4 separate regions of the Homo sapiens genome follow, and regions 1, 3 and 4 are each linked to region 2. Evidence: fine-mapped expression QTL. A gene starts in region 2. Each other region holds a variant in brackets. All regions are shown on one strand. Distances are between the middles of the regions.

The links. PIP is the estimated chance that this variant, and not a neighbour inherited with it, causes the effect.
Region 1: its variant is the best candidate, but not a certain one, in a credible set for the expression of CLDN5 in whole blood (TOPMed, PIP 0.65).
Region 3: its variant is the best candidate, but not a certain one, in a credible set for the expression of CLDN5 in whole blood (INTERVAL, PIP 0.78).
Region 4: its variant is the best candidate, but not a certain one, in a credible set for the expression of CLDN5 in whole blood (TOPMed, PIP 0.54).

The regions. Positions count from the first base shown.
Region 1 is chr22:19,578,305-19,586,100 of GRCh38, forward strand. No RefSeq gene overlaps it. Among named protein-coding and RNA genes, the nearest start is that of LINC00895, 15 kb to the left of the region's middle. The variant G/A (reference allele first, on the strand shown) is at 4,168.
Region 2 is chr22:19,520,071-19,526,946 of GRCh38, forward strand. CLDN5 (claudin 5) reads right to left here and starts at 4,340. Exons shown (of 1, transcript NM_001363066.2): 1 at 2,957-4,340. The coding sequence starts at 4,185. The coding sequence ends at 3,529. CDC45 (cell division cycle 45) reads left to right here. Exons shown (of 19, transcript NM_003504.5): 19 at 411-538. RefSeq lists an enhancer at 2,023-2,955.
Region 3 is chr22:19,328,705-19,336,161 of GRCh38, forward strand. It overlaps HIRA (histone cell cycle regulator), which reads right to left. Exons shown (of 25, transcript NM_003325.4): 25 at 1,994-2,852. The coding sequence ends at 2,736. LOC105372859 (a long non-coding RNA gene) reads left to right here. Exons shown (of 6, transcript XR_938002.3): 3 at 1,271-1,376; 4 at 2,850-2,978; 5 at 4,998-5,039. Among named protein-coding and RNA genes, the nearest start is that of CLTCL1, 41 kb to the left of the region's middle. The variant T/C (reference allele first, on the strand shown) is at 4,617.
Region 4 is chr22:19,549,804-19,557,599 of GRCh38, forward strand. No RefSeq gene overlaps it. Among named protein-coding and RNA genes, the nearest start is that of LINC00895, 13 kb to the right of the region's middle. RefSeq lists enhancers at 4,842-5,544, 5,545-6,247 and a silencer at 4,963-5,257. The variant A/G (reference allele first, on the strand shown) is at 3,722.

The sequences.
Region 1 (7,796 bases), 59 kb after region 2:
TGTGCAAGGGAAGCGCTGTGAGTGACAGAGCAAAGCCAGGCATCTTTCAGTCAAGGATTTTCTCTCCAGTTGTGTGCAAGATAAGAAGTGACTGACTCTGTGTAGCCAGGAGGCTGAGGCAGGAGGATGGCTTGAGGCCAGCGGTTTGGGACCAGCCTAGGCAACATAGTAAGACTCGGTCTCTACAAAAAATTTAAAAAATATCCGGGTGTGGTGGTGCGTGCCTGGGGTCCCAGCTGCTGGGAATGCTGAAGCAGGAGGGGATTGCTTGAGCCCAGGAGTTCGAGGCTGCAGTGAGCCATGATTGCACCACTGCACTCCAATCTGTGTGACAGATGAGACCCTGTCTCTTAAAAAAAAAAAAAAACCAAAACCAAAAACAAAAAACCACCTCTCTAGATTATGTTGCTCCTCTGCTCCACACCATGCTGTGGCTTCTGTTCACAGTCAAAGGTCCCAAAGTGGCCATGGCCTGTGCTGCCTGCTGCCGCTCTCCACACCCTGGCCGCTCGGTCCCCAGGAGACCAGGCATGCTCCTGCCACAGGGCCTTTGCACTGGGTGCTCTCTGGGTCTGGAACAGGCCCCACACCCACTCACTTCCCCCAAGTCTGCTCAGATGCCACTTCCACACTTCCTAACAAAAGGAAGCTGTTGGTGAGCAGATGCTCAGTAACTTATGTGTGGCCAGAAGGAGCGAGTGGCTCCAGCCTGCGCGTGGAAAGCTGGCTCTCCTGGGTCACTGCTCTCACTGAGCCTCGGGTTTCTGCTGCCCAGAGGACTGCGTGGCTCTTTCTTGTACCTGGCAGTTCTGACACTGCTGGAATTGGGAAGAAAAGGGACCCTGAGACTAGGTCACTCCCTCCTGGGGTCTCAAGGGGCCCTGTCCCTGGGGCTGGAGGCTGAGCTTCCTCCTCCTTGTCCCCACCCTGGGGATGGCCTGTGTTCTGTCTTCCTTGTGCTCACCACTGGCGCCTGTTGGCTGAGGCAAGAGGGCCTCCAGCTGGGTTCTTCCTGTCCTCTAGTTGGTGCCTGAAGGCCCCAGTTGGGTGGGGTCTCTCTTTACCCTCTGGTCATATAGCAAACTGTGGCTGGTGTGTGGTGAGTCAGCCCTGTGTGCAGGCAGGGTCCCATTTCCCTGTGTGCAGGCCACAGTCTGTCCCAGTGCCTGCAAGGCCTCTGCCCCAGCTGGCCTGGACCCCCCTTGCCAGACTCTGCTCTTTGTGGGGCTCTGCCCACATCTACTGCCCAGTAGGACGCCCAGTCTCCACTGCTCTTTGGAGGTAAAAGAGGGCCTGGCACACTGGCACGGGGTACTTTCCCAAAGGTCAAAGATGTGTTGAGTGAACGAAGGTAGAGAGTTCATTTCTGAGACCTTTGCTGGCCTAATTCAGCTCAGTGGGGTGAAGTTATTACTGTTGAGATGCTTGCTGTTTTGATTGTCTTTAGAGAGCATTCTTAATATTTGGATGGTTTAAAATACCAAGGAGAAAAAAGGGAGGAGAGGCTTCTTTTTTAAAAATACCAACTTCATTATGAAAACACACAAATGTACACACAAATAGAATAATATAATGACACCCCTCCCACCACCACACGGCCTGTTTCAGTCTGTGTCCACAGCGAGGCTTCTGAAGGAAAGGCTGTGGAGGGGGTGAGCTGGTGGAGCCCATGTTCTCCCGGGCCTGGCCGGGATGTGCTTGCCGCTGTCACAGCTCCCCCATCTCCACCCGTCACATGACATCGAATGAGGCCGGCCTGGCTCTAGCCACTGCACAGGTGTCCCGTGGTCATTTCCTTCCTGTGCTGCTGAGGCACACAGTCACCCGTTTGCAAACTCTGAGGTGTTTTCCCTTTTCCCATTTCCTGTCACTGTTTTGAAGCTGTGAGAGGAAGAGAGAGACCTCGATCTGATAACCATTCATTTACTATCAAAGTTGGGGTCACATCCTTATAAGAACGTGTGGCTTGAGGTCATGAATAGCAGTAATGCGAGGGAAGCTAAGATTCTGGCAGGATGCAAATGATCTGGGAGTTTTCATTTTGTCGTTATGTATGGGCTGTTTTCTGCTGCATTGTTAACTATTGGAAAAGATTTTCCATGGATTATTATATGGATTATAGAGGAAAATGCAAATCTCCAACCTCTATACATTTAATCACTTAAATGAAATGTCAAGTTTTCTTGTTAAGAATTATGGTGCTGACTGGAAGAACAACATGGCTTTAAATATGACTTATTAGTTTCTTTCCACTTCTAAAGTTCAAAATAAAACATCATAGGTGGCAAAACAAATCAAGGTAAAATACGTTTTGAAAAGTCATAACTTTACTCAACAACAAAAAATAAGAAATAGACAGAGGACTTGAATAGACATTTCTCCAAAGAAGACATACAAGTGGCCAAGAAGTACATGAAAAGATGCCCAACATCACTGGTTATTAGGGAAATGCAAATCACAGGCATTAGGATGGCTATTATCAAAAAAAGCCAAGCAAAACCAACAACAGAAAATAAAAGCATTGGCAAGGATGTAAAGAACGTGAAGATGTGGAGAAATTGAACGTTGGTTTACTGTTGGTGGGAATGTAAAATGGTGCTGCCACCGTGGAAAAGTTTGGTATTTCCTCAAAAAGTGAATCAGAGGCCAGGCGCGGTGGCTCACGCCTGTAATCCCAGCACTTTGGGAGGCCGAGGTGGGCAGATCACGAGGTCCGGAGATCAAGACCATCCTGGCTAACACGGTGAAACCCCATTTCTACTAAAAATAAAAAAATTAGCTGGGCGTGGTGGTGGGCGCCTGTAGTCCCAGCTACTCGGGAGGCTGAGGCAGGAGAATGGCGTGAACCCGGGAGGTGGAGTTTGCAGTGAGCCGAGATAGCGCCACTGCAGTCCAGCCTGGGCTAAAGAGCAAGACTCCGTCTCAAAAAAAAAAAAAAAAAAAGTGAATCAGAATTACCGTGTGGTCTAGGAATTCCACGCCCAGAATAGGCATGCACTGAAAAGAATTGAAAGCAGGGACTCAAGACACTTGTGCATCGATGTTCACAGCAGCATCATTCACGCTAGCTAAAAGGTAGAAACAATTCAAACATGCACCGACAGATAAATGGATAAGCAATGTGGTCTACAGACATGGACAATGGAATATTATCCAGCCTTAAAGAAGGAACTCTGGCCGGTCACGGTGGCTCATGTGTGTAATCCCAGCACTTTGGGAGGCCGAGGCGGGTGGATCACGAGGTCAGGAGTTCAAGACCAGCCTGGCCAAGATGGTGAAACCCTGTCTCTACTAAAAATACAAAAATTAGCTGGGTGTGGTGGCAGGTGCCTGTAATCCCAGCTACTCAGGAGGCTGAGGCAGAGAATTGCTTGAACCCAGGAGGCAGAGGTTGCAGCAAGCCAAGATCATGCTACTGCACTCCAGCCTGGGTGACAGAGCAAGATTCTGTCTCAAAAAAAAAAAAAGAAGAAGGAATTCTGACACATGTTACTACATGGATGAATGTTGAAGCCATGCCCGGTGAAATAAGCCAGTCACAAAAAGACAAATATTGTCTGATTTCACTTATATGAGGTATCTCTTATATAAGGTAATCAAATTCATAGAGACAGAAATTAGAATAGTGGTTACCAGAGGGTGGGGAAGCAGGGAATGGGAAGTTATTATTGAATTAGTATAGACTTACAGTTTGGGATGACAACAAAGTTCTGGAGATGGATGATACTGATGGTTGTACAACATTGTGAATGTGCTTACTGCCACAGAACTGTACAATTAAAATGATTAAAATGATCCTTTTGGCCAGGCGCGGTGGCTCATGCCTGTAATCCCAGAACTTTAGGAGGCCGAGGCAGATGGATCGCGAGGTCAAGAGATCAAGACCAGCCTGGCCAACATGGTGAACCCCATCTCTACTAAACATACAAAAATTAGCTGGGCATGGTGGCACGTGCCTGTAATCCCCGCTACTCGGGGGCTGAGGCAGGAAAATCGCTTGAACCAGGGAGTCGGAGGTTGCGGTGAGCCGAGATGGCACCACTGCACTCCAGCCTGGTGACAGAGTGAGACTCCGTCTCAAAAAAAAGGATCCTTTTGTGCTGTGTATATTTTACCACAATTAAAAATGCAGGAGTTAGTAAAGGAATGGAACAAGATCATGTGAAC[G/A]TGAGTTATGAGAATACTGGAATGGCATCCGGCAAAGCAGACTCAGAACAGGACTGTTCCTAGAGATAGGGAGGACTGTTTTATGCGGATAAAGTGGTCAAGTCATCAAGAAGACATTATGATCCTAAATATGTATGCACCCAATACAGAGCAAAAACTGACAGAACCAAGAGAACAAATAGACAAATGCGCAGTTATAGCTAGAGATTTCCACACTTCTCTCTCAGTAAATGACAGAACAAGGAGGCAGAAAATCAGTTTAAGAATGCAGAATACTGCCTGGGTGCGGTGGCTCACACCTGTAATCCCAGCACTTTGGGAGGCCAAGGTAGGCAGATCACTTGAGGTCAGGAGTTTGAGATCAGCTTGGCCAACATGGCAAAAACCTGTCTCTACCAAAAATACAAAAATTAGCAAGGTGTGGTGGTGCATACCTGTAATCCCGGCTACTTGGTAGGCTAAAGCAGAAGAATTGCTTGAACCCGGGAGGTGGATGTTGTAGTAAGCCGAGATCACGCCATTGCACTCTAGCCTGGGCGACAAGAACAAAACTCCATCATGACAAAAAAAAAAAAACAACAACAACGACAAAAACTAGCCAATTGAGTTGGGCACAGTGGCTCACGACTGTAATCCCAGCACTTTGGGAGGCCGAGGCAGGCAGATCGCTTGAGCTCAGGAGATGAAGACCAGCCTGGGCAACGTGGTGAAACCCTGACTCTACAAAAAATCCAAAAAATTAGCCATGTGTGGTGGTGTACACCTGTGGTCCCAGCTGCTTGGGAGGCTGAGGTGGGAGGATCACTGAAGCCTGGGAGGTCAAGGCTGCAGTGAGCAGAGATCGCGTCACTGCACTCCAGCATGGGTGTCAGAGTGAGACCCTGTCTGAAAAAAAAAAAAGTCAGTTGAATCTAGCAACAAAAAAAAGGATAGGCCATGGACAAGTAGAGTTTATCCCAGTAATGCAACATCAGCTTAACATTTAAAAATCAATATAATCCTCCATATTAACACAAAAAAAGTAGGAAAACACTATCAATAAAGAGCAGAAAACTGATGGTACAACAAGTGGATGAATCTCACAGGACTTATGTTGAATGAAAGAAGCTGGACAAAACAGTATGCACTGTGATTCCTTTTATAGAAAACTCTAGAAAGGACAGATCTCATCTAGAATGATGGAACACAGATGGGTGGTTCCCTGGGTCCTGGTGTGACCAGGAGGAGTCATGAGGGAAGCTTCTGGAGTGATGGGATGTTCTTGGTTTTGACTGTGATGATGGTTACTTACACAGGTATACACATTTGTCTACATGCATTGAGCTGTATACTTTTATTTTTTTTTTTGAGACAGAGTCTCACTCTGTCACCCAGGATGGAGTGCAGTGGCACGTCTTGGCTCACTGCAAGCTCCGCCTCCCGGGTTCACGCCATTCTCCTGCCTGAGGCTCCCAAATAGCTGGGACTACAGGCATGGGCCACCACACCCGGCTAATTTTGTTTTTGTATTTTTAGTAGAGACGGGGTTTCACCATGTTAGCCAGGATGGTCTCGATCTCCTGACCTCATGATCTGCCCACCTCGGCCTCCCAAAGTGCTGGGATTACAGGCGTGAGCCACCATGCCCGGCCTAAGCTGTATACTTAAGATGTGTGCACTCTCTCGTATGCAAGCTGTACATCAATAATATTGATTTTTAAAAATCCTTTAACTGAGGTAAAACACTGATGTACAGTGTAGTTATTCTGCATTTTCTGAAATAACCATAGTTTATATCAGAAAGAATAGGGAGCTACAGAAGATACAGAATAGTGCATATAAGTTGCTACTTTTTATTGATAAATTTTTACATGTTTATGTGGTACATGGAGTAGTTGTTACATTACACATTACAGAATATGTAATGATCAACTGAGAGTATCTGAGGTATCCATCACCTTGAGTGTTTCTTTCTTTTTTCTTTTTTTTTTTTTTTTGAGAGGGAGTCTTGCTCTGTCACCCAGGCTGGAGTGCAGTGGCACGATCTTGGCTCAATGCAAGCTCTGCCTCCCGGGTTCACGCCATTCTCCTGCCTCAGCCTCCCGAGTAGCTGGGACTACAGGCGCCCGCCACCACGCCCGGCTAATTTTTTTTTTTTTTTTTGTATTTTTTAGTAGAGACGGGGTTTCACTGTGTTAACCAGGATGGTGTTGATCTCCTGACCTCGTGATCTGCCTGCCTCGGCCTCCCAAAGTGCTGGGATTACAGGTGTGAGCCACCGTGCCCGGCCTTGAGTATTTATTTCTAAGTGTTTGTAATGAGGTAGGAGGCAGGCGAGACTCAACTCCGGACCAGATTGAGGACTGGCCAAAACTAGGAAGAAGTGCACAAAGGACCTCTCCATAAGACATGCCCACCAGTGCCATGACAGTTTACTATTGCCATAGCAACACCCAAAACTTACCACCCATTTTCTAGCTGTTTCTGAATAACCTGCCCCTTAATTAGCATGGCACTAAAAGTGGGTATAAGATATGACTGCAAAACTGCCCCTAGGCTGCGACCCTCAGCACACTGCCTATGGGGTAGCTCTGCTCTGCAGGGGCAGCCAGCCAGAGCTATAGCACTGCCTCCACCGCAAGAAAGCTGTTTTCTTCCACTACCAGCTTGCTCTTGAATTCCTTCCTGAGGAAGCCAAGAACCTGCCCTGCATCAGTAGCATTTCAAGTCCTCTCTTCTAGCTGCTCTGAAATATGCAATACATTGTTGCCAGCTACAGATACCCTACTACCCTGCTATGGAATGTTAGGGCTTATTTCTTCTACCTAACCATATGTTTGTACCCATTAGCCAACTTCTCTTTATCCTCCTCCCACCCACACATGCTTCCCAGCCTCTGGTATCTATCATTCTATTCTCTCCCTCCATGACATCAACTTTTTAGCTCCCACATATGAGTGAGAACATATGGTAGCTGTCTTTCTGTGCTTGGCCTATTTCACTTAACGTTATGATCATCGGTTCCATCCATGCTGCTGCAAATGACGATTTCATTCATCTTATGGCTGAATAGAATTCCATTATATATATATTTATATATATATATATATATATATATATATATCTATCTCACATTTTCTTTATTTCTTCATCTGTCAGTGGACACAGTTTGATTCCATATCTTTGCTGTTGTGAATAGGAGAGTGCTACCACTGTTAAAGGATCTATTTACATACATGCTTATAAATAAATGCATCCAGGATTTTTGTAAAGATCTATCATTACTTTCACTCTTTTGTAGCTTTTGAATTTTTTCATCATGTGCATCCACTTCCTAAAAACAAAATTTCTTTTTTTAACTTTTCTTTTCTTTTTCTTTTTTTTTGAGGCAGGGTCTCATTCTGTCACCCAGGCTGGATTGCAGTGGTGTGACCTGAGCTCACTGCAACACGTACCTCCTGGGCTCAAACAATCCTCCTACCTCAGCCTCCTGAGTAGCTGAGACTACACACTCATGCCACCACACCCAGCTAATTTTTGTATTTTTTGTAGAGATGGGGTTTTGTTATGTTGCCAAGACTGCTGTCTAACTCCTGGGCACAAGCAATCTGCCTGCCTTGGCCCAAAGTGCTGGGATTACAGGCATGAGC
Region 2 (6,876 bases):
AAACCCCTCCCCTGCAGCCTGCTTGGTGGTGATGTTATGCTGCTGTGTGTCCTTCCACTGAGGCAGGGGCACAGGTGGCCTGGGCTAGGAGGGCTGAGCAGCAGAGTGCCGAGGGATGGAGGGAGAGCCCCCATGGGAGGGTGCCAGGGGGCTGGCTGAGCAGCTGGGCGGGGTCCGTGAGGTAAGAAGGTGCCCGGGCCAGGGGGCAGGAGCTCTGATGTAGGACAGCTCAGCCCAGTCAAGGGGTGCTATGAGGACAGCAGGGGCCTCCGAGTCTGGGGTGGCCTCACCCCCACAAGCAGTCCTGGCTACTCAGCAGCACTACCCAGAGGGGACGCCTGGGCAGTTTCTTCAATTCGGTGGCACATCAACATCGTTTGAAACTTGTTTTTTCTTGTTTTGTTTTCTAGAATTTGATTCTTCCAGAATGACCTTCTTATTTATGTAACTGGCTTTCATTTAGATTGTAAGTTATGGACATGATTTGAGATGTAGAAGCCATTTTTTATTAAATAAAATGCTTATTTTAGGCTCCGTCCCCATTGTGGCTCTGGTCTCGAGGCCAGTGCTTGAGTGTGCTCTGAGCCTTCTGTGGGTCTTGGGCCCCAGGAGCCCTCAGTGCCTGGCAGGAAATCAGCATGGGGATTGGCCCCAAGGACAAGATCTCCTTACTCTGTCCTCCAGGCCCTCCGGGTGGCAGTGGACAGAGGTCAGGACCCCTCGGCATCCCCGCCTCCTCATAGCACCTGCACCGGCCACTGCCTGGTGGTGCCAGCCAGCACCTGGCTCTGTCCACCTACCACTTCCTCTGGTCCACCTGGCCTCAGCCACATAGCAAGTCCACCCTCTCAGCCATCCCTCCACCTGTGGGTCTCACCATCCAGCACTCTTTTCCAGGTCTTTGAAGGCAGGAGTGATTTGGGTAGGTTTTAAGTCAGTGGGGAAAAGCTCAGAAAGAGTGGCCTGGAAAAGAGCACACAGGTAGGTGGGGCTGGTCTTGGTGCAGCCCTTGGCAAAGGGCAGTGGGCACAAAAGGGTGAGAGCTGGACTGGAGGCTGGGCCCCTCCCCTCACCTCTGGTGGTTTGCACAGCTTCCCGGGACCCTTGAGCTGCCTACCCTGGCCATTTGGGAAAATTCAAAGGCTGTGCAGCTTCCTTTCCATGCCCTTTCTTTCCTTTTTTTGAGACAGAGTCTCGCTCTGTCACCAGACTAGAGTGCAGTTGGTGCGATCTCGGCACACTGCAACCTCTGCCTCCCGAGTTCAAGTGGTTCTCCTGTCTCAGCCTCCCGAGTAGCTGGGATTACAGGCACACACCACCACGCCCAGCTAATTTTTGTATTTTTAGTACAGACGGGTGTCACCACGTTGGCCAGAATGGTCTTGATGTCCTGACCCTGTGATCCGCCCACGTCGGCCTTCCAAAGTGCTGGGATTACAGGCGTGAGCCACCGTGCCCAGCCCCGTGCCTGTCCTTTCTTAGGAAAAGGCTTTCTTAGGAATGCCCTCCCAGGCAGCCTTGGGCCTCAGCTTCTGACCAAACACACCAGACCTGGTACTACCCAGTCCCGGTGGCCAGGTGCAAGAGTGTAAGGACCATTGTTTTTGGCTCTGCCCAGGGCCACAGCTCTGGGATCACACACTCCCAAGCTTGGGGACTATTCTTGGTCCCTGTTGTACAGGCCCAGGTGGGGTACAGGTCAGGCCTGCTGAGGACCTCTGCACCGTGGGGCCCCTCTCCCTGTAACTCATCCCACCGGCTGGTTCCACAGCAGCTCCCAGGAAGCTGCCACACATTCCAGCAGCTGCCCTAAGCCACTCTGAGCCTGCATTCTTGGGGTTCTCCCACTGCTCCATGATGGTAGCCTGGCCAGACCTAGGAGACTCCCTGCCACTGGATGTGGCCCAGACATTTCTGGGCAGGGCCCCCAAGTCCAGTTTGGGGCAGATACCAAGTCTCCCTTCCGGCTGGGCTTAGAGCTCTTCCCTGCAGCATGCCCCCTTCATCAGCTGCTCTCTTCTGCTTCTAGCTTTATGTCAAATGTCAAAAATGTGTTAATTCAAAGTGCCTAGAACAAGGCTAAAAACAGTGAGCTCTCAGTGGCTATGTTAGATGGCTCTAGACACCCCCATTCCGAGGTGCCTGGCAGGGGCCAGCACTGACTCCCAGGCCACACAGCCCCTGGAGGAGGAAGGTTACCCAGAGTGCCCCCAGCAGGGGCTGGCACAGGTGCTGGTTGTGAGCACCATTCTGGGCAGGCTGCCAGGCCAGCAGGGTGGGTACAGGCTCTGTAGGGAGCTGCGCTGGGACTGGCAGAGGAGCCAGGACGAGGGGCTAGAGCCAAGCTGTGGTACTCCAGGCAACCAGCTGCCAGCACCTCCTCCCATGGCAACCCTACTGTTGACCGGCGTGTCCTGCATTCACCCCTGTTCCTGCCCCACCCACCATTGGAAAGGGCCTGGTCGGGGATTCTACAGACCTCTGTGGCCACTTGATGGGGCTTGGGACTAGGCAAGCCCTGAGAGGGCAGTGGAAAACCTCACCCTGTGCTGTGTGGGGCTTGGCCCTTTCTGGGAGAAGCCAGCGGCCTGGCTGCTCACCCCCAGCACTTCCCACACCGCAGGACCCCCACTCACCAGCCTGTGTTGAGGGCGCTTCACCCCGCATCTTCTGCTGGGGTCTGCCGCTGCCCCCGCCCCTGTCCCATCCCGGGCCCCAGGGCCCCATGACGCAGCAGCTCTTCTGACCGCAGATCCCGCCTTTCTGGGCTGTAGTAAGTGGTGGCTGTGTCTCCCACCTGGTGGGAAGGTGGCAGGGAGGATGGGGAAAAGAGCCCCAGCCTCCAGCCCTGGGAGGAGGTCTCCACAGGAGTCCTTGGGAGGGCGGGGCTGGTGGGTGATGAATGGGGCTGCTGGACACGGAAGATGGCTGGACAGAGAACAGGACACAGGTGGGAGAGAGTTCAAACCATTTACTAAGCAGATTCTTAGCCTTCCCACTCCCGCCCTCTCTCAAGCTCCGGTGCCCACAAGCCTTGCCTGGGGAGATGCTGGAGTGAGACCGGGAGGTCCAGGCCAAGTCACTGGTCCCTGGGCTCGGGCCCTGCCGATGGAGTAAAGACCAGCTGTACACATCTTCCGGTGGGGGCCCTGGGCTCTGCATCCGCCCCTCCGAAGTCAGCAGGAGCCTCTGGGAAGTAAGGCAGCAGCCAAGACCCCCAGCGTCTTGGAGGGGAAGCGAAATCCTCAGTCTGACACCCGCTCTGCCTATGGAAACAGCGCCGCGCACAGAAAAGGAAACTTCATTCCGTCTGTTAAGGGCAGGGCCGGGCTAGTGGCAGGAGAAGGTCAGCTGCGGGCGCAGGCAGGAGCGGATCCAGGAGCCGCGTCGGGGCGCAGAGCCGGACGTTCCGAGGAGCCTGCGCGCCGCGCTACCCGGCGGAAGCCGCGGTCCATGCGGGGCTCCCCAGGCTTATCCAACGCCTCGCAGGCGTGGCTGGCAGGAGGGGCCCGGCCGTGCCCAGCGCCCTCAGACGTAGTTCTTCTTGTCGTAGTCGCCGGTGGCCGTGGGCCGCCGCGGCGCTGAGTACTTCACGGGGAAGCTGAGGTCGGGACGGCCGGTGCAGACCCAGGCGCCGCAGCACAAGAGGCAGCCGCCTACCATGAGCAGCGCGGTGGCCGCCCAGCCGATGTACAGCGCTGCGCCCAGCTCGTACTTCTGCGACACGGGCACAGACGGGTCGTAAAACTCGCGGACGACAATGTTGGCGAACCAGCAGAGTGGCACGAGCGCCAGCAGCCCGCAAAACAGGTAGAGCACGCCTCCCGTGAGGGCCACACGCGCCTTGGCCGGGCCCGGGGCCACGCAGGTGGTGCACTGCGCGCCCGCCAGGGTCACGAAGAGCGCAACGAACGCCAGCAGCACGGCGCTCACGGTGAGCGCCCGCGCCGCCTGCACCTCGGTGCTCAGAGCCAGCACCGAGTCGTACACTTTGCACTGCATGTGCCCGGTGCTCTGCACCACGCACGACATCCACAGCCCCTTCCAGGTGGTCTGCGCCGTCACGATGTTGTGGTCCAGGAAGGCGGTCACCTGCCACATGGGCAGCCCGCACGCCAGGATCAGACCCCCCCAGCCCACCAGGCACAGCACCAGGCCCAGGATCTCCAACGCTGCGGACCCCATGGCTAGAGGCGAGACGCGCACCCGAAGGCCCGCAGAACCCCCAAGGCCGTGCTGCGCGGCGCCCTGGGCGGGCCCTGGTGCCTTTGCGCCCGCGCTCCCGGCTCTTGGCCCCAGTCCGTTTGCCCCGCGGGTCTGTCGCACCTCCTGGGTCTGCCAGCTCCTGCCGGGGGGTACCCTCTTTGAAGGTTCGGGGGCGGATTCTGTCCCCCGGGCCCGGCCCCCCGGCCCGAAGCAGCCAATCCGTGCGCGGGTCATCGTGCCGCAGCCAATCACAGAGCCTCTGGCAGCTGAAGTTAGGGAAACAACGGCTCTTGAGGGGTAGCTGAGGGCGCGGGACCGCTCCCCGCCCGGCAGCCGCCCCCAGCCCCACCCGCCGTTGTCCTAGTCGCGGCCGAGCGCATTCTGGGCTGGCCTAGGGCGCGCTTCTTGGGCCGCCTCCCTGCGCGTCCCGGCCCCGTCACTTCAGAAGGCGCTCGACCCCCAGTCTGCACCACCCAGTCCACTCCCACATCCCCGACTGAGCCGGGTGGTCTCTTCCACTCGAGCCAGCTCCACTTCCCTGACCAAGGTTTGCAGAAGCCCCCCACCCCGTCACCGCCGTAGAGGCCCTCGTAGGGGGGCTCTCCAGAAAGCCCGCCCCGGGGTCCAAGCCCCACCCAGGCCCTTTCTCGCACTCTCACTCTCCAGCCCCGCTCTGAGTCCCAGCACTGTCTCTCTCATCCCATGGCAAACAGAGAGGCCAGGCAGGCGTGTGGAGGTCAGGCCCAGGGCCCCAGCCTCACCCCCCATGCCACTCACTGCCTCTCTGGAGCCTGAGTCTCTGGCAAAAAGCGGTGGCACAGGGGCTTTCCCCCTGCCTGGCGACCCCCACTCTCCCAAGCCGCAGGGGCTTCCCAGACCTCTCAATCTTCACAGGGGCTGCTCCTCTTCCTGCGGTACTGCCCGCACCCCATCCTTGGGGGCCCAGTTCAGGTGACACCACTTCAGGAAGTTCCCAGTGACCCAGCACACTGGGTGTAGCACCCAGGGGCAGTGGTGGCCCCAGGCCTAGCAGCCTGCTCTGGCCTTCAGACAGGAGAGACAAAGGGACACGGAGGGGCTGTGCCCTGCCCTCCCACCAGTGGCGATGGTGTCCCTGGCACCCCAGCCCCCAGGCCACCCTCCGGAAGCCAACTTGGAGTTTCCTGGCCAGGAGGAAGAGCCCCCATCCTTGCTGGAGGAGGGAGGCGCGGGATTTCCGGGCATTCTTCTGCACAATGGCCCAGCCATTTCTCGAAAGGTCCACTGGTGTGGACACTCCGGGCCCCCTGAGGCTCAGGTGGGGGCACGCGGCTCCAAAACCCACAGCCCCATGGGGGCACCAGCCCCTTTCTAGTAGTTCTTTCCCCAGTCTCTCTCGGCCCCTTTGTTTCCAGTAAAGTTTGAACTCCAGGCCCTGGACTGAGGCCACTGGGTGCCCAGTTCTTTTATCTGGTCTGTGCTCAGTTCCATTGGACAGGGCCCTCCATAGAAAAAGTATGGCACTGAGGCTGGTCACAGATGTGGGAGGTTTGATGACTTTCTCCCTCCTGGGGCCCGGTTCCCTTCTCCCCCTTCAGATGGCTCTGAGATGGTAAATGAGATAAGGCCAGCGTCTGGCTCACCTAGTGTGGGGAGGTTCTGAAGGCAAGTGTGCCCAGCCCTGAGGCTGGAAGGAAATCATACCCTCTTTGCTCAGCCCCACGTGGCCTCTCCCCACCAGGTATGGCTCTGAGGACCACTGCCTTCTCCCAGCTATCACTTTAGTCACTGCCTTCCTCCTGCTGCAGACCCATGGGCCATGCCCCTTCCTCTACAGACCCTCCTGGACATCTCCTCCTCTGTGTACTCCAGGGGTACAGCTGACCCACCCACCCTCTCACTCTTACTACCCCCTAACCCAAGCCCAGGGAACTTCCCCAGATCCCCCTACTCCCAGCCCTTCCATGCCACCATCTTCCTGGGATGACTGCTGCGGCCTCCTCAGGTCATCAGGGACCTGCCCTTGCCCAGCTAGGCCACCCACCCCACCAGGCCCCTCTCCTGGGCCTCACCCTACCTAAGACCCTCCATGGCTCACATTGCCCATGGACGAAGAGCCGACTCCCAGAGCAGCTGGATTGATGTGTACCTGCATGCGCTAGGACTGGCCAGTCCAGCCACCAGTCTTGGTGCGGCCCTGAGCACACACTCTGCCCCAGGAGACTTACCTGCCTATGGGCCTCACATGGGCCGTCTCTTACCTTGGCCTCTTCTGCCCGCAGCGTGTATCTGTCAGGTTGGGTCCTGCTCATCTTCTAAGATGTGTTGCCGAGGTCATTTCCAGGAACACCTTGCTGCACCGTCCCCCAGCATTGCTTTTAGAAGCTTGAGCTGGACCTGTCCTTTTGCTTGCCGACTTTCCCACCTAGTATCCAGGAATAACCTCCACAGGGTGGCTGTCTTCATGCGTCTGTCCTGCACAGGAGGCTGCCTGTTGCCCTCTAGCCAGCTTGGAGCTGCAGCCAGCCCAAGGCTCTCCCTTCTCACCTGGCTGCCTGTTTTTCTTCTCTCCTAGCTGTCACCCTAGGGTGGCCCCAGCAAGCTCATGTTTCTTTGGCGGCAGCCTCACAGCATCTCAGGGACGTGGCAGAGGAGTCTCAGGCTTCACCTTTCACAATCTGGTTTCTACCC
Region 3 (7,457 bases), 190 kb before region 2:
TTGCAGCCTTGAACTCCTGGCCTCAAATGGTCCTCCCACCTCAGCCTCCCATGTAGCTAGGTCTCCAAGCGCATGCTACTGTGCCCAGCATGGTATCCAGTGTCTTGAAACCACCATTGCATGTATTTTTGACGGGCTCCTTTGGTTGTTTCAGGTAGAAGGGTCAACCTGGTCCCTGTTACTCCATCTTGTCTGTAAGTTGAAGGCCTTGATGTTTTCTGCTTATCTCTTCATCATCTCCAAACGGTGGTGGTAAAGTCACTCACGACTGCTGTTTCCTTCAAGGGAGGAAACGTGCGAAGACTTTGCCCACACAATCTCAATTTGTCCTCATAACGTTGCAGATTTTTTTTTTTTTTTTTTTTTTTGAGACGGAGTCTTGCTCTGTTGCCGAGGCTGGAGTGCAGTGGCGCGATCTTGGCTCACTGCAACCTCTGCCTCCCGGGTTCAAGCAATTCTCCTGCCTCAGCCTCCCGAGTAGCTGGGATTACAGGTGTGTGCCACCACACCCAGCTAATTTTTGTATTTTTAGTAGAGACGGGGGTTTCATCATGTTGGTCAGGCTGGCTCGAACTCCTGACCTCGTGATCTGCCCACCTTGGCCTCCCAGAGTGCTGGGATTATAGGTGTGAGCCACTGTGCCCGACCCCAGTGCAGATTTTTTTAGTCTCAATCTCTATTTGACAGCTAAAAAACTGAGGCCCAGATGTTTGCTGGTTTGGAGCCCAGACAGGCCTGTTGGCATATATTGCTTCCTGGAGCTCCACAAAGCTCGCAATGTCTTGCTGCATAGTTGCTAAGGGAGCTGCCTCACCTGCACAGCAAGTCTCTGGCTCTTCATTCCTTAAGAGTCCCACTTGCAGCCTGGCTTTTTATGTGTACACACACACACACTCACACAAACTATCCTGGCTTTATTTGGCATGAACACATGCCTGGGTCTCATCCAGCCACTTGACATCCGAGTGAGACATGGAGTGGAATGGCTGCTAGGCCAGAGATCAGTGGTCAGTTACCCCGGCCTCTGACTCCAAGTCCAAGGCTCCTTCTCCAGGCTCAGACCCACACACTGGGTGGTGGTGACAAAGATCAGGACCCAGGAGTGGGTGGTACTCAGCCCTCACTGTGCTTAAAGATTCTGTGATTCTGTTTCTTCTCCTGTAGATCAACGTCTGGATCACTTTCTAATAAAATTCCAACTTTGCTGATAATTCTCCAATATACCCAAGACTGTAAATACTGATTTCCTTTCATGAAATTGTCCAAACAGCTGCAGCCCTTGGTGCACAGTATGATCTGGACCTGGGGCACAGCAAGACCAGAACCATGAACCACCATGAACCATGACTCCTCACTTGTGAGATGACGTGTGCAAGGTGACCTATGGTGCTTCATGACCACAGAAGTGACCACTCTACACTGTGAAATGAATTTCTGCATGGGGGGTATATTAGGGTTCTCTACAGGGACAGAACTAATAGATATATATGAAAGTTTATTAAGTATTAACTTACACAATCACAAGGTCCCACAATAGGCCATCTGCAAGCTGAGGAGCAAGGAGAGCCAGTTCGAGTCCCAAAATTGAAGAACTTGGGAGTCCGATGTTTGAGGGCAGGAAGCATCCAGCACGGGAGAAAGATGTAGGCTGGGAGGCTAAGCAAGTCTCATCTCTTCACATTTTTCTGCCTGCTTTATATTCGTTGGCAGCTGATTAGATGGTGCCCACCTGATTAAGAGTGGGTCTGCCTTCCCCAGCCTGACTCAAATGTTAATCTCCTTTGGCAACACCCTCACAGACACATCCAGGATCAATATTGCATCCTTCAATCCAATCAAGTTGACACGCAGTATTAACCATGACAGGGGGGAATGAGATGACACAAAGGATCCCTTCTGGCTCTCATGTTCTGTCACCATCTACTTCAGGAGAGAGATGCACTGTGTGGGGAGGATGAAAGTTAGAAGGAAAAGGCAAGAGAAATCAGGAGGGTTTGGTATTCAATGCGTGTTCATTTATTTTACACTTACAAAAGAAATCGCCCACCCCTTTGCCCCATTCCCCCAAAACAGTCTCTTTTTACAAACATTTAAAAATTAAAACCAAATGAAGATAGACAAGTTAATTTCAGTACAATTATTTTTCAGTGTAGCTGTCATAATTAGAGTTTAAATTTCCTACAAGTGACCAATGTCCAAGTGACTTATAGGGAAATCCTGATTATCGGCCAAAGGAAATTCAATATTACAAGTTAGCAAATTCTAGTACAAAAATAGTCCGTGTGTTGGAACAGCTTTCCTTTTACATAGGTCTTAGGTCAGTCTGCTGTAATACCTAACGCTTCCGGATTCTCTCTCACAAATGGCTCAATCGTCACTGCTGAAGCAGCATGGTGCCTGCAGCAGCAGGGGCTAGTGTCCACCTTGGGGCCGTGCTGGAGACGGCAGGCCTGGGACTGCCTTGCTGGCCCCAGGGCACCTGGGCAGAGCTCCAGCCCTAGCTCCGCATCGGGGGCTTGGAGGGAGGGATGAGCTTCCCCCTCCTGAGGCAATGTCAGACCCAGGACACAGGGCACATCTGCCCAGGGAGCTGGGCTGGCGCTGGTGCAGGACAGCACATCTCCTGCCAGTGTCTCCTCCCCCTACAGCCTGGTCAGGTGAGAGGCGGTCCTGCATGTCATCAGCGGCGAGAGTGTGGCCCTGCCCTTGCTGCAGCCAGGGCAGGCTGGGGCAGGCTACTTGTCCCTCAGGATGTCGAGCTGTTCCTGACACTCGGTGAAGAGGCGCTGGAATCGGAGGTTCTGCCCGATGACTGGTAGCAGCTCCTTCAGCAGCTCCCTCTTCCGCAGACCCTGTGGACACAGAGTGACAGCTGAGTGCAAGTGTCAGTGAAGAGACCTAGATTGTGGGGACTTTCCTGGCCTGGCAGAGAACCTTGTGTCTGCTCACGGGAGAAGGAAAGAACAATTCCTCTGCAGGTGAGAAACTGTGAGAGAGCTGTGGGGCAAATGTGCAGGATGAAGTGGCAGGTGGAATGGGAGCAACACAGTGTGGGGATAAAGGAGGATGAGGCCAATGCAGGGTCTGCTCCTCCATCCGTGGGCACAGCCACTGCTGACCTTATAGTGACTGAGCAGTTCCCTGACCATCCAGGGCAGGATGAGAGTAGAACAAGGCTGAGGGTCAGGTGGCTGGCCATTCAGGAGGGGCTGTTCCCTCATGCTGATGTTTGCCAGGGGTTTGAGGTCAAGCCCCAGGGCAAGGATGCACCTGGGGGGCAGTGACTGGCTTTAGTTTTCCAGCAACACAAATGAGGTGCCAGTATCCCCTGATGTGGAGGATGTTCGGATGCTGACCAAACTATGCTTAGTTGCCTAAACATCCTCCACGTCAGGTCATATTGGCACCACAGTCTGAAACAAGCATTGCCAGTTGGGGTCTCTGCTGCACAGACCAAAAGAGCAGACTCCTGAGCAGTACGGCTGCTCCAAAGGGAAAACTACCAGCCAGACAACTTTAACACTGGACGAGAAGGTCTAAGATCTTGAATTAACGGTGACAGATATACCTGCAACAAGTCTAGAAGTGACAGTAAAGAATAAGTGTAACTATTAGGTTTGAGTAACACAGAAGTTGTTAGAGATGGGATAAGCAGGAGAATGGCTGCTGTTGGCGACCAAGTTTGATGGAGGAGCAGCCCACACTCCAACAGGGAGGCTCTGACACCAGAGTGCCATAGTCAGAACAGAGATGGTATGGATTTGCAAAGGCTGAAATGTTTACTATCTGGTCCTTTACAGAAAAGTTTGTCAACTCCTAAAATAGATCATGTTTTCTAACTAAAATAATTGAGTAAAACTCATAGGTCAAAGGGGAATTCTAATTAAGTGAAATTAAAAATGACTTGCAAGAGAATGGTAAAAAAAAAAAACCAACACAAAATACTCCAAAAGTGGTAAGATTCAGCAAAAGTGGGCACTTTAGAGGCATTTAGAAACAACAGCTTATACTGTATTAGAGAACATGAAAGAATGACAAGCCAAGACTCCAACCTAAAGCCATCAGGGGAAAGGAAAAAAAAAAAGACTAAAGAAAAAAAGGACATGAGAAAAAAACATTTTTTTTAAAAAAAGGAGATAATAAAAATTGAAATAAATAAAATAGAAAACAAAGATTTAATAGAGAAGATTTAGAAAAACAATTTTATTTTATATATTTTTTTGAGACAGGGTCTAGCTCTGTTGCCCAGGCTGGAGCGTAGTGGTGCAATCACAGCTCGCTGCAGCCTCAACCTCCCAGGCTCAAGTGATCCTCCTGCCTCAGTTACCCGAGTAGCTGGGACTATAGGTGTGTGCCACCATGTCTGGCTAATTTTTATATATTTAGTAGAGCGGGGTTTCACCTTGTTGGCCAGGCTGATCTCAAACTCCTGAGCTCAAGTGATCTTCCTGCCTTGTTCTCCCAAAGTGCTGGGATTAAAGGCGTGAGCCACTATGCCTGGCAAAAGTCATTTCTTGAAAAGACTAATGGACAAACGTCTGGCAGGATTAATCAAGAAAGAGAGAGAAAGCTTAAAGAAATAATATTAGAAATAAAAAGAGACATAACTACAGATA[T/C]AGAAGAAAGAAAAAGATATGATTACTATCAACTTTATGCTAAGAAATTTGAACATTTAGAGAAAATGGAGAAATTCCTAGAAAAATATAATTTATCAAAACTAGCTCAAAAAGAAATAGAAAGGAAAAGTTAATTATTACCATAAAGAAAACATCAGGAATACTATTTTAAAACTGACATCAAGGATGAGATTTTCTTTGTCTTTCCTTTCCCACAGTTTGACTAATGTGTCTCAGTGCAGGTTCCTTTGGGATTTTCCTACTTAGAGTTCACTGAGGCTCTTGTATTAGTAGACCCCCGTCTTTCCTCAAATTTGGAAAATTTCCGCCAGTATTTCTTCAAATAAGCTCTCTACTCCTTTCTCTCTCTTACACTTCTAGAACTCCCATTATGGATTCATGGGTATACTTGGATGGTGTCTGGTAAGTCTCTTAGACTCTGTTTGCTTTTCTTCATTCTATTTTCTTTTTGCTCCTCATACTTGATAATTTCAAATGACCTGTTTTCAAGTTTGCTGATTTACCCTTTTGTCTATTCGAGTCTGCTGTTGAACCCTTCTAGTGAACTTTTCAATTCAGTTATTGTATTTTTAAACTCCAGATTTCTGTTTAGCTCTTTTTTTGGAATTTCTATCTCCTTGTTGATACTCTCATTTTCTTTTTTTTTTTCTTGAGATGGAGCCTCGATCTGTCGCCCAGGCTGGAGTGCAGTGGTGTGATCTCGGCTCACTGCAAGCTCCGCCTCCTGGGTTCACACCATTCTCCTGCCTCAGCCTCCCGAGTAGCTGGGACTACAGGCGCCGGCCAGCACGCCTGGCTAATTTTTTTGTATTTTTAGTAGAGATGGGGTTCCACCATGTTAGCAAGGATGGTCTCGATCTCCTGACCTTGTGATCCGCCCGCCTTGGCCTCCCAAAGTGCTGGGATTACAGGCATGAGCCACTGCACCCGGCCCTCATTTTCTTCATATATAGTTTTCCTGATTTTGTTTAGTTGTCTGTATTCTCCTTGAGCATTTTTTAAGACATTTATTTTAAAGTCTTATGTCTGATGGGCACAGTGGCTCATGCCTGTAATCTCAGCACTTTGGGAGGCCAAGGCGGGCAGATCGCTTGAGGCCAGGAGTTCGAGACCAGTCTGGCCAACATGGCGAAACCCCATCTCCACTAAAAATACAAAAATTAGGCCAGGCGCGGTGGCTCACGCCTATAATCCCAGCACTTTGGGAGGCTGAGGCGGCTGGATCACTTGAGGTCAGGAGTTCGAGACCAGTCTGGCCAACATGGCGAAACCCCATCTCCACTAAAAATACTAAAATTAGCCAGTCCTGACCTCAGGTGATCCACCTGCCTTGGCCTCCCAAAGTGCTGGGATTAAGGCATGAACCAACGCACCCGGCAGTCCTTTTACTTTTAAGCCATTGTGTTATTACATGTAAGCTGGGTTTCTTATAAGCAGCATACAGCTGGTTGTTATTAATTCTAATCTGATAATCTATGCCTTTTAGACCTATATTTAATGATTATTGATATATTAGGGTTTAAATCTACCATCCTATGTATGTTTTTCTGCCTTCTTTTGAATGAATGTATTATTTTCTATCATTCAATTTTATCTATTTGTTAGTTTTTTAGCTACGATTCTTTTTACTGCTTTGGGATTTGTATGTGTATGTGCATGAGTTTTATTTTTTGGTTTTGGTGGTTGCTCTAGGGCATATAACATACAGTATATGCCTTTACTTATCATAGTCTGTCTTCAAGTATTATATCACTTTGCATAATGTGTAAAAATCTTTTAATGGTATACTTTCATATCCCCACTCCTGGCGTCTGTGATACTGCTGTCATGCCACTTCACTTCTACATATGTTATAATTACAAACTACATTTTCATTATTTGGCTTAAAAAGGCAGAACTTTTTGACTTTTTTTTTTTTTGAGACAGGGTCTTGCGCTCTGTTGCCCAGGCTGGAGTGCAGTGGCGTGATCTTGGCTCACTGCAACCTCTGCCTCTCAGGTTCAAGCAATTCTTGTGTCTTCGCCTCCTGAGTAGCTGGGACTACAGGCATGTGCCACCACACCCGGCTAATTTTTGTATTTCTAGTAGAGATGGGGTTTCGCCACGTTGGCCAGGCTGGTCTTGAACTCCTGGCCTCAAGTGATCTGTCCACCTCGGCCTCCCAAAGTGCTGGGATTACAGGCGTGAGCCACCGCGCCGAACGAGAACTTTTTTACATTTTGACATTTAGATGAACACTTTTGACATTTAATTCTTAACCCTTTGGAGGTATATTTTTATGAACTGAAGATCTGCTTTTACTTAGTTACATATAAATAACCAGTTTCCTAAACTCCATTTATTGAATAGCCCCCCCTATTTTTCCCACTGTATCTGTTTTGTCTTCTCTCTCATATAGCAAAGTATCTAAATTACTCCGGCTTCATAATAAACCCAAATATCTGGTAGCATAGTGAATGTCTTAACTATTCTTGGCTTTTTACTGCTCCATATAAATTGTTGAATTAGCTTGTCAAGTTTCATTGAAACCTCTAGTGGGCATTTGATTAGAGAGGCATTGAGTCAGTAGGTCTGTTTAGAAACGGTTGGCGTCTTTTACTGTACTGCACTTTCTCATCGTTTGTCCAGGTTTTCTTTAATGACTTTAAGTAAACGTTTATAATTCTTAGCATATAGGCTATGTACATCCTTTGTTAGATTTATTCTTAGATACTTTATAATTCTCAAAAGAGACAATCTTGAAAGTGGCAAAAAAAAAGTGACTCATGAGAGGGATTTGAAGTTTGTGAAGAACTACACGCACAATTGCTGGCTTAAAGA
Region 4 (7,796 bases), 30 kb after region 2:
GTCCTTATTTTCAAGATACAGCCATGTGAAAAAATGGCTCCTACCAACACACGAAGAGGGAAACTCCGCACTCCTATTGCTTGGCAGCCATCCTTCCATCACTAAGGGAACCAGCCTTAGGATAAAGCTGAGGGGTGGAGCAATGGAAGGTACTCAGGTTTCTATCACAGTTTTTGTTTGTTTGTTTTTTGAGACAGAGTTTTGCTCTTGTAGCCCAGGCTGGAGTGCAATGGTACGATCTCAGCTCACTGCAACCTCTGCATCTTGGGTTCGAGCGATTCTCCTGCCTCAGTCTCCCAAGTAGCTGGGATTACAAGCGCCCACCACCACGCCCAGCTAATTTTTTTGTATTTTTAGTAGAGATGGGGTTTCACCATGTTGGCCAGGCTGGTCTCAAACTCCTGACCTCAGGTGATCTGCCCGCCTCAGGCTCCCAAAGTTCTGTGATTACAGGTGTGAGCTACTGCGCCTGGCCCCAGCTAATTTTTATATTTTTAGTAGAGATGGGGTTTCACCATGTTGGCCAGGCTGGTCTTGAACTCCTGACCTCAGGTGATCTGCCTACCTCAGCCTTCCAAAGTGCTGGAATTACAGGCATGAGCCACTGCGTCCAGCCTCTATGATGGTTCTGTAAAGCCTGTAAGCTGAACAGCCCTGGAGCCTGCCTTACCTCTGAACATCCACTGGCATGAGCCAATAAATTGCTATATTAAGACCGTTCTAGTTGGATTTTTTTCCTTTTTTTTTTTTTTAGACAGGGTGTCACTCTGTCACCCAGGCTGCAGTGCAGTGGTGTAATCATAGCTCACTGCAGTCTCAAACTCCTGGGCTCAAGCGATCCTCCTCCTTCAGCCTCCTGAGTAGTTTGGACTACAAGAACGTGCCACCACACCTGGTGAATTTTTAAATTTTTCTTTTGTAGAGACGAGGTCGTGCTATGGTCACCCCGGCTAGTTTAGAACTCCTGGTCTCAAGTGATCCTCCCACATCGGCCTCCCAAAGTGCTGGGATTATAGGCATGAGCCACCATGCCCAGCTGTTTCTTTCCTTTTTAAAACATTTTTTATTGAGATACAATTCACATAACATAAAATTAATCACTTTAAAGTTTATACTTCAGTGGCTTTAGTATATTCACTATGCTGTACATGCATCGCCACGGTGTAATTCCAGAACATTTCCATTTCCCCAAGAGAAACCACAAATCTGTTGGCAGTTATTCTCCACTTCTCCCCACCCCATGCCCTAGGTATCCACCAATCTACTTTCTGTCTTCGTGGATTTGCCTGTTCTGGACATTTCATAGAACTGGAATCACACAGCATGTGGGCTTTTGTGTCTGGCATCTTTCTCTCCGTAGATTTTCCTATTCTGGACATTTCATAGAACCGGAATCACACAGCATGTGGGCTTTTGTGTCTGGCGTCTTTCTCTCCATGGATTTGCCTGTTCTGGACATTTCATAGAACCGGAATCACACAGCATGTGGGCTTTTGTGTCTGGCATCTTTCTCTCCGTAGATTTGCCTATTCTGGACATTTCATAAAACTGGAATCACACAGTATGTGGGCTTTTGTGTCGGGCGTCTTTCTCTTAGCACAGTGTTTCCAGGTTCATCCGCGCTGTAGCCTCATTCAACACCTCATTATCTGTGACGCTAAATAATATTCCTTTATTCTGTTTATCCATTTACCTGTTGGTGGTCATTTGTGTTGTTTCCATTTTTGGGCTATTGTGAATAGTGCTGTTATGAACTTTTTTTTTTTTTTTTTTTGAGACAGAGTCTCGCTCTGTTGCCCAGGCTGGAGTGCAACGGCATGATCTTGGCTCACTGCAACCTCTGCCTCCCGGGTTCACGCCATTCTTCTGCATCAGCCTCCTGAGTAGCTGAGATTATAGGCGCCCACCACCATGTCCAGCTAATTTTTTTGTCTTTTTAGTTGAGATGGGGTTTCACCATGTTGGCCAAGCTGGTCTCAAACTCCTGACCTCAAGTGATCTGCCCACCTTGGCCTCCCAAAATGCTGGGATTACAGGCGTGAGCCACCGCACCTGGTCGATTACTATAGTTTTGTAGTAAGTTTTGAAATGGAGAAGTGAGTCTTCTAACATTGTTCTTGTCCAAGACTGCTTTGGTTCTTTCTGTGTCCCTTGCAGTTCCATATGAATTTTAGAATCAGCTTGTCCATTTCTGGAAAAAAAAAAAAAGCTGTTGAAACTTTGATAGGTATTGCATTAAATCTGAAGATCTTAATGTTAAGTTTTCTAGTCCACGAATATAGAATATCTTTCCATTTTCTTTCAACAATGTCTTGTAGATTTTTTATAGCAGCCTTGCACTTTTTAAATTAAATTTATTTCTAAGTATTTCAAGACTATTCTTTTGATGCTGTATTTTCTTAATTTGATTTTCAAATTGTTCATTGCCAGTAGATAGAAATGCAACTGGTTTTGTATATTAATCTTGTATCCTGCAACTTTACTAAACTCACTTATTAGCTCTACCAGTTTTTGTGCAGATTCTTTAGGGTTTTGTTTGGTTTTGTTTTGACAGGGTCTCACTCTGCCACCCAGGCTGGAGTGCAGTGGCATGATCATGGCTCACTGTGGCCTTAATCTTCCAGGCTCAGGTGATCCTCCCACCTCAGTCTCCTGAGTAGCTAGAACTACAGGTGTGTGCCACCATGCCCAGCTAATTTTTTGTAGAGATGGGGTTTTGCCAGGTTGCCTGGGCTGGTCTTGAACTCCTGGGCTCAAGCAATCCACCCACCTCAACCTCCCAAAGTGCTGGTATTAAAGGCATAAGCCACCATGCCCAGTTTCTTTAGGGTATTCTTTATACAAGATCATGTCATCTGCAAATGGAGTTTTACTTCTTTCTCTCCAATCTAGATGGCTTTTTGTTATTTTTTCTTGTCTAGTTGCCCAGCCTAGAATTTCTAGTACAATGTTAAGTAAGTGGCAAGAGTGGCCATCTTTGTCTTGTTCCTAATCTCAGGGGTAAGGCTTTCAGTTTTTTACCATTAAGTATGATATTAGCTGTGGGCTTTTCACAGATTCCCTTTATCAGACTGTGCGAGTTCCCTCCTATTCCTAGTTTAGTGCATGATTTTTATCACTAAAGGGTATCCTGACTTTGTTAAATTTTTTTTTTTTTTTTTTTTTTTTGAGATGGAGTTTCACTCTTGTTGCCCAGGCTGGAGTGTGTGATCTCGGCTCACTGCAACCTCTGCCTCCCCATTTCAAGTGATTCTCCTGCCTCAGCCTCTTGAGTAGCTGGGATTACAGGCACCCGCCACCACGCCCCACTAATTTTTTGTATTTTTAGTAGAGATGGGGTTTCACCATGTTGGTCACGCTGGTCTCAAACTTGTGACCTCGGGTGATCCACCCGCCTTGGCCTCTCAAAGTGCTGGGATTACAGGCATGAACGAACCACCACACCCTGCCTGTTAAAGGTTTTTGTCAAATTCTTTTGTGCCTATTTAGATGACCTTGTGGTTCTGTCCCTTTATTCTATTAATATGATGTATTACATTGATTAGGTTCTGTGTTTTAAACCAACCTTGCATTCCTGGGATAGATCCTACTTGGTCATGGTGTACAATCCTTTAACATGTTGCTGAATTTGGTTTGTTAGTTGTTTGTTAAGGATTTTTGAATCCAAATTTATAAGGGATATTGGTCTGTATTTTTTATTGTGATGTCTTTGTCGGGCTTC[A/G]CAGCATAAGTCAGTAAGTGTTCCCTCCTCTTCTGTTTTTTGGACACATCTGAGAAGTACTGGTGTTAACCCCTCTTTAAACATTTGGTGGAATTTGCCAGTAAAGCCGTCTGATCCTAGGCTTTTCTTGCTAGAACTTTCTTTCTTTTTTTTTTTAACTAGTAACTCCAAATTCATCAAATTTGGGAAGATTTCAGCCTTTATTTCTTACTAAGAATGAGGCATTTCTCTTGAATGTTTTCCTCATGTTGCTACAAACCTTTTTTTGTTTGCTTGCCCTTTTTTTTTTTTTTTTTTTTTTGAGATAGAGTCTTGCCCTGTTGCCCAGGCTGGAGTGCAGAGGCATGATCTCAGCTCATTGCAACCTCTGCCTCCTGGTTCAAGCGATTCTCCTACCTCAGCTTCCCAAGTAGCTGGGGTTACAGGCATGCACCACCATGCCTGTTTTCTGTTTGTTTGTTTTCTTTGTTTTGTTTTGTTTTTTGTATTTTTAGTAGATACTGGATTTCACTATAAGGCTGGTCTCGAACTCCTGATCTCAAGTAATCCACCCGACTCGGCCTCCCAAAGTGCTGGGATAACAGGCATGAGCCACCATGCCTGGCCTGCTGCAAGCCTTTTAATGTCCAGAGCTATTTTTAAAAAGTTGATTTTTGAGTTTTTTCCCTTTTTTCATTGTTTTTTGTGGAGGGGTGAAATTTGTATTTCTTCATCCTCCATCTTCACTGATGTCCTTCCTTAGCTGGGTTTCTGATAGGGCAGACAAAAATGCCCCAACTCCTAAGACACTTATTTAGTTATAAGGATGATGGTTTTCAAACTTTAGTGAACACAATTAACTAGGGGAGACTATTATAAATACACATTCCTAGGTCCCACCACAAATTCCAATGAGTTTGTCTGCGGCCTGGGAACCTGCATTTTGAAAGCACTGGATTACAAGATCTAAAAGTAATGAACAAATTGAGAGGTTGAGAGGAGGAGAGGTTGTCTAAATATGTTAACTTCACATTGATTTCATACAATAGAGCCAAAAGAAACTACACAGTTGAGAAATCAAGATGTGGGTTGTATGCTTTAGAATTACGAAGGCAACCACTGTAAGAATTAGAAACAAAAATAGTTAAGACAGGCCACCTTCAGGGAATGGAGTTGGAGTAAGACAGGGCAATTTTAAATTTTCTTTATAGTTTGAGCTTTCTTTCTCAAATACAGCTGTTATCTTTATAATAAAACAAACACAAAAATGACAAGAAAATCAGTAAAAGGGGACTATTGGCCAACAATTCTGTCTTCCCTTCCCAGTGCCTCTGCCAGTGTACTCATCCATCCACCAGCAGCTATGGCCCAGGGGCGTGCAGCCTGGCTCCTCAGAATGGCACATGGAGCTGGGCTCCTCCCAGGAGCCACATTCCTTCCCACCTCCCCCCAGAGGCAGGCATGGGCAACTGAATGCAAACAAGATGAAGAGGAAGGACACTGTAAACTAAACAATTGTTAGCTTCCAGACGCAGCCACAACCTGGAGTCACAGAGCCCTCCTGGACTCAGGGCCAAAAGAGACCTACACAAGGTCACATAGTGACCCAGTCCTTCCCAGAACCAGTAGTCTTTGGAGCTTAAAAACATAAGCATAGGCCGGGCAGGATGACTCATGCCTGTAATCCCAGCACTTTGGGAGGCCAAGGCAGGCAGATTGCTTGAGCTCAAGAGTTCGAGACCAGCCTGGGGAACACGGTGACACCCCGTCTCTACTGAAGTACAAAAGAAATTAGCCAGCGTGGCGGCGTGTGCCTGTAGTCCCAGCTACTGGGGAGGCTGAGGCAGGAGAATTGCTTGAGCCAGGGAGGCGGAGGTTGCAGTGAGCCGAGATCGTGCCACTGCACTCCAGCCTGGGTGACAGAGTGAGACTCTGTCTTTAAAAAATAAAATAAAATAAATAAGCATAAATCTAAAACACTTTGCTTGGAAGCTGGCCTCAGGCTTAGCTTATACCATGAATTCATCTGCCAACTGTTTCAGAGGTCTGGGCAGAAGGGCTGCCCAGCAGGAACCAGAGGTCTGGAACAACCAAGTGGGGATGGCTGATTCTGAGGGAGGGATGGGCATGTGACAGTGTGCCCTCTGAACTGTGGGGGAATGTGGCTCCCCCGACCCCTGGGCTCTGGGGGGCTGTTTTCTGGGTGAAGGTGATCCAGACTGTTCAGGCCAAAGCCCCAGTGCCAGAGACTCATTGTCCCTCCCACGGTGGAGATGTTCCTCTCTCAAGGTGTCCTGCATTAGCATGGGACGTTCTCCTCCACTCCACCGTGCCTGGAATCCATGTGGGCAAGGATGAGGAGGGAAGCAGCTGTTAGTGGGAAGTGAGGCTGTGGGACTCCAGCGTTCTGGACAGTCCCAGCCCGAGGTGACACTACTCTGATGTGCTGAGTGGCTGACTTGGTAGGGAGTTAGTGTTTGGAGGTTTTCTCACAATTCCATGAGAATCCAGGGCAGGCCATGATAGTGGGGAAGGCTTTCACATGACGCAGCACTGGAGCTGGACCTGCTGGCTGGGCAAGCTTCAGACACAGGAGGGTGGTGGCATATCCTTTGCTGTAACAGGCAGAAAATATAATGATGTGACATGCCCCACCTGGGCCCATCTTGCCTCTGGCCCTGCAGGCCTTCTGAAACCAGCTCTAGGAGGCCCAGGGAACCCCACAGGCAACACCAGATTTGACCCCACCAAGGAGGCCATGACAGGTCCCAGTCCACAAGATGAACACTATGCTCTTTAAAAAGAACTCCTGTCTTAGTTGGTGTTAGTTCCCAGCCAGTGAAGTCACAATGATGGTAGCAACAGGTACCATCACCTGGCACCTGCTGAGTGCCAGGCATGGTTCCCAGGGATGCACACACACAACGCTACCCCGCAGCCCCAGCCATCCATGTACCCCTGTGGAAAGGAAGGCACAGAGACACATCACGGGACTTGAGAGTGGCAGAGTCAGGATCTAGGCGGGCAGTCAGCTCCAGTGGGGGTTCACAGCCCCTCGCTACTCTGCCGTTACCTTCATCCATGACAATGTGACCAGTCATCTCTGCAGCTGCAGGGGCCAGTAAAGTGCGAGACTCCTAATTCCAGTGCATATTTGCTGAATGAGAGAATGAAAATGTGTACCCACATACCTCAGGTACCTACAACAGACTGTCATTATAACTGCAAGAGACAGAGTGAAATTAATAGACACCGACATGTCCTCAGCAATTCCAACAAAACAAATAGTGACAAGTACCCAAGTTAGTATGACCTACTAGTCTCCAAATCATAGTAACTGGTGGTCAAAATGAAGAGGCAGGACATTCCACAACAGTGTGGACGCACCAAAGGAATGGGCAAAAACACACACCTCCTTCTTCTCAAAAGTATGTGTACTGGTTTTCTATGGCTGACATACAAATTATCATAAATTTAGCAACTTAATACATCCTAGCACTTTGGGAGGCCAAGGTGGGAGGATCACTTGAGCCCAGCAATTCGAGGCTGCAGTGAGCTATGGTCAAGCCACTACACTCTAGTCTGGGCGACAGAGTGAGATGTTGTCTCTAACAACAACAACAAAGCCCAGTTCGGGTGGTAAAGGTGGCATTTCATAGCGATGGGATGGTGCAGGGTGATCCTGGCAGGGCAGGTGATGAGAGTGTGGAGGCAGAGCCTGGGAAACCTCCATGTCAATATGATCACAGAAACAAGGAGCGCTCCATCGCAACTGGGGCAAAGTAGAAAACGCACTGAGGGACTGACCTGATGAAGGTGGAGGGTGCGAAATGCAATCCAAAGTAAAGAAGAGATGAGGGTGCAGAAAATTATGGGCAAGAAACAATGCTCTCAGGTTCTAGATTTGTGGTCTTAATTGAATCACAATTTGGAGAGGCTTATTTTGTTTTTATTTTTTTGAGATAGTCTCGCTCTGTCGCCTTGGCTAGAGTGCAATGGTGCCATCTAAGCTCACTGCTACCTCTGCCTCCCTGGTTCAAGCAATTCTCCTGCCTCAGCCCCCTGAGTAGCTGGGATTACAGGCATGCATCACCAC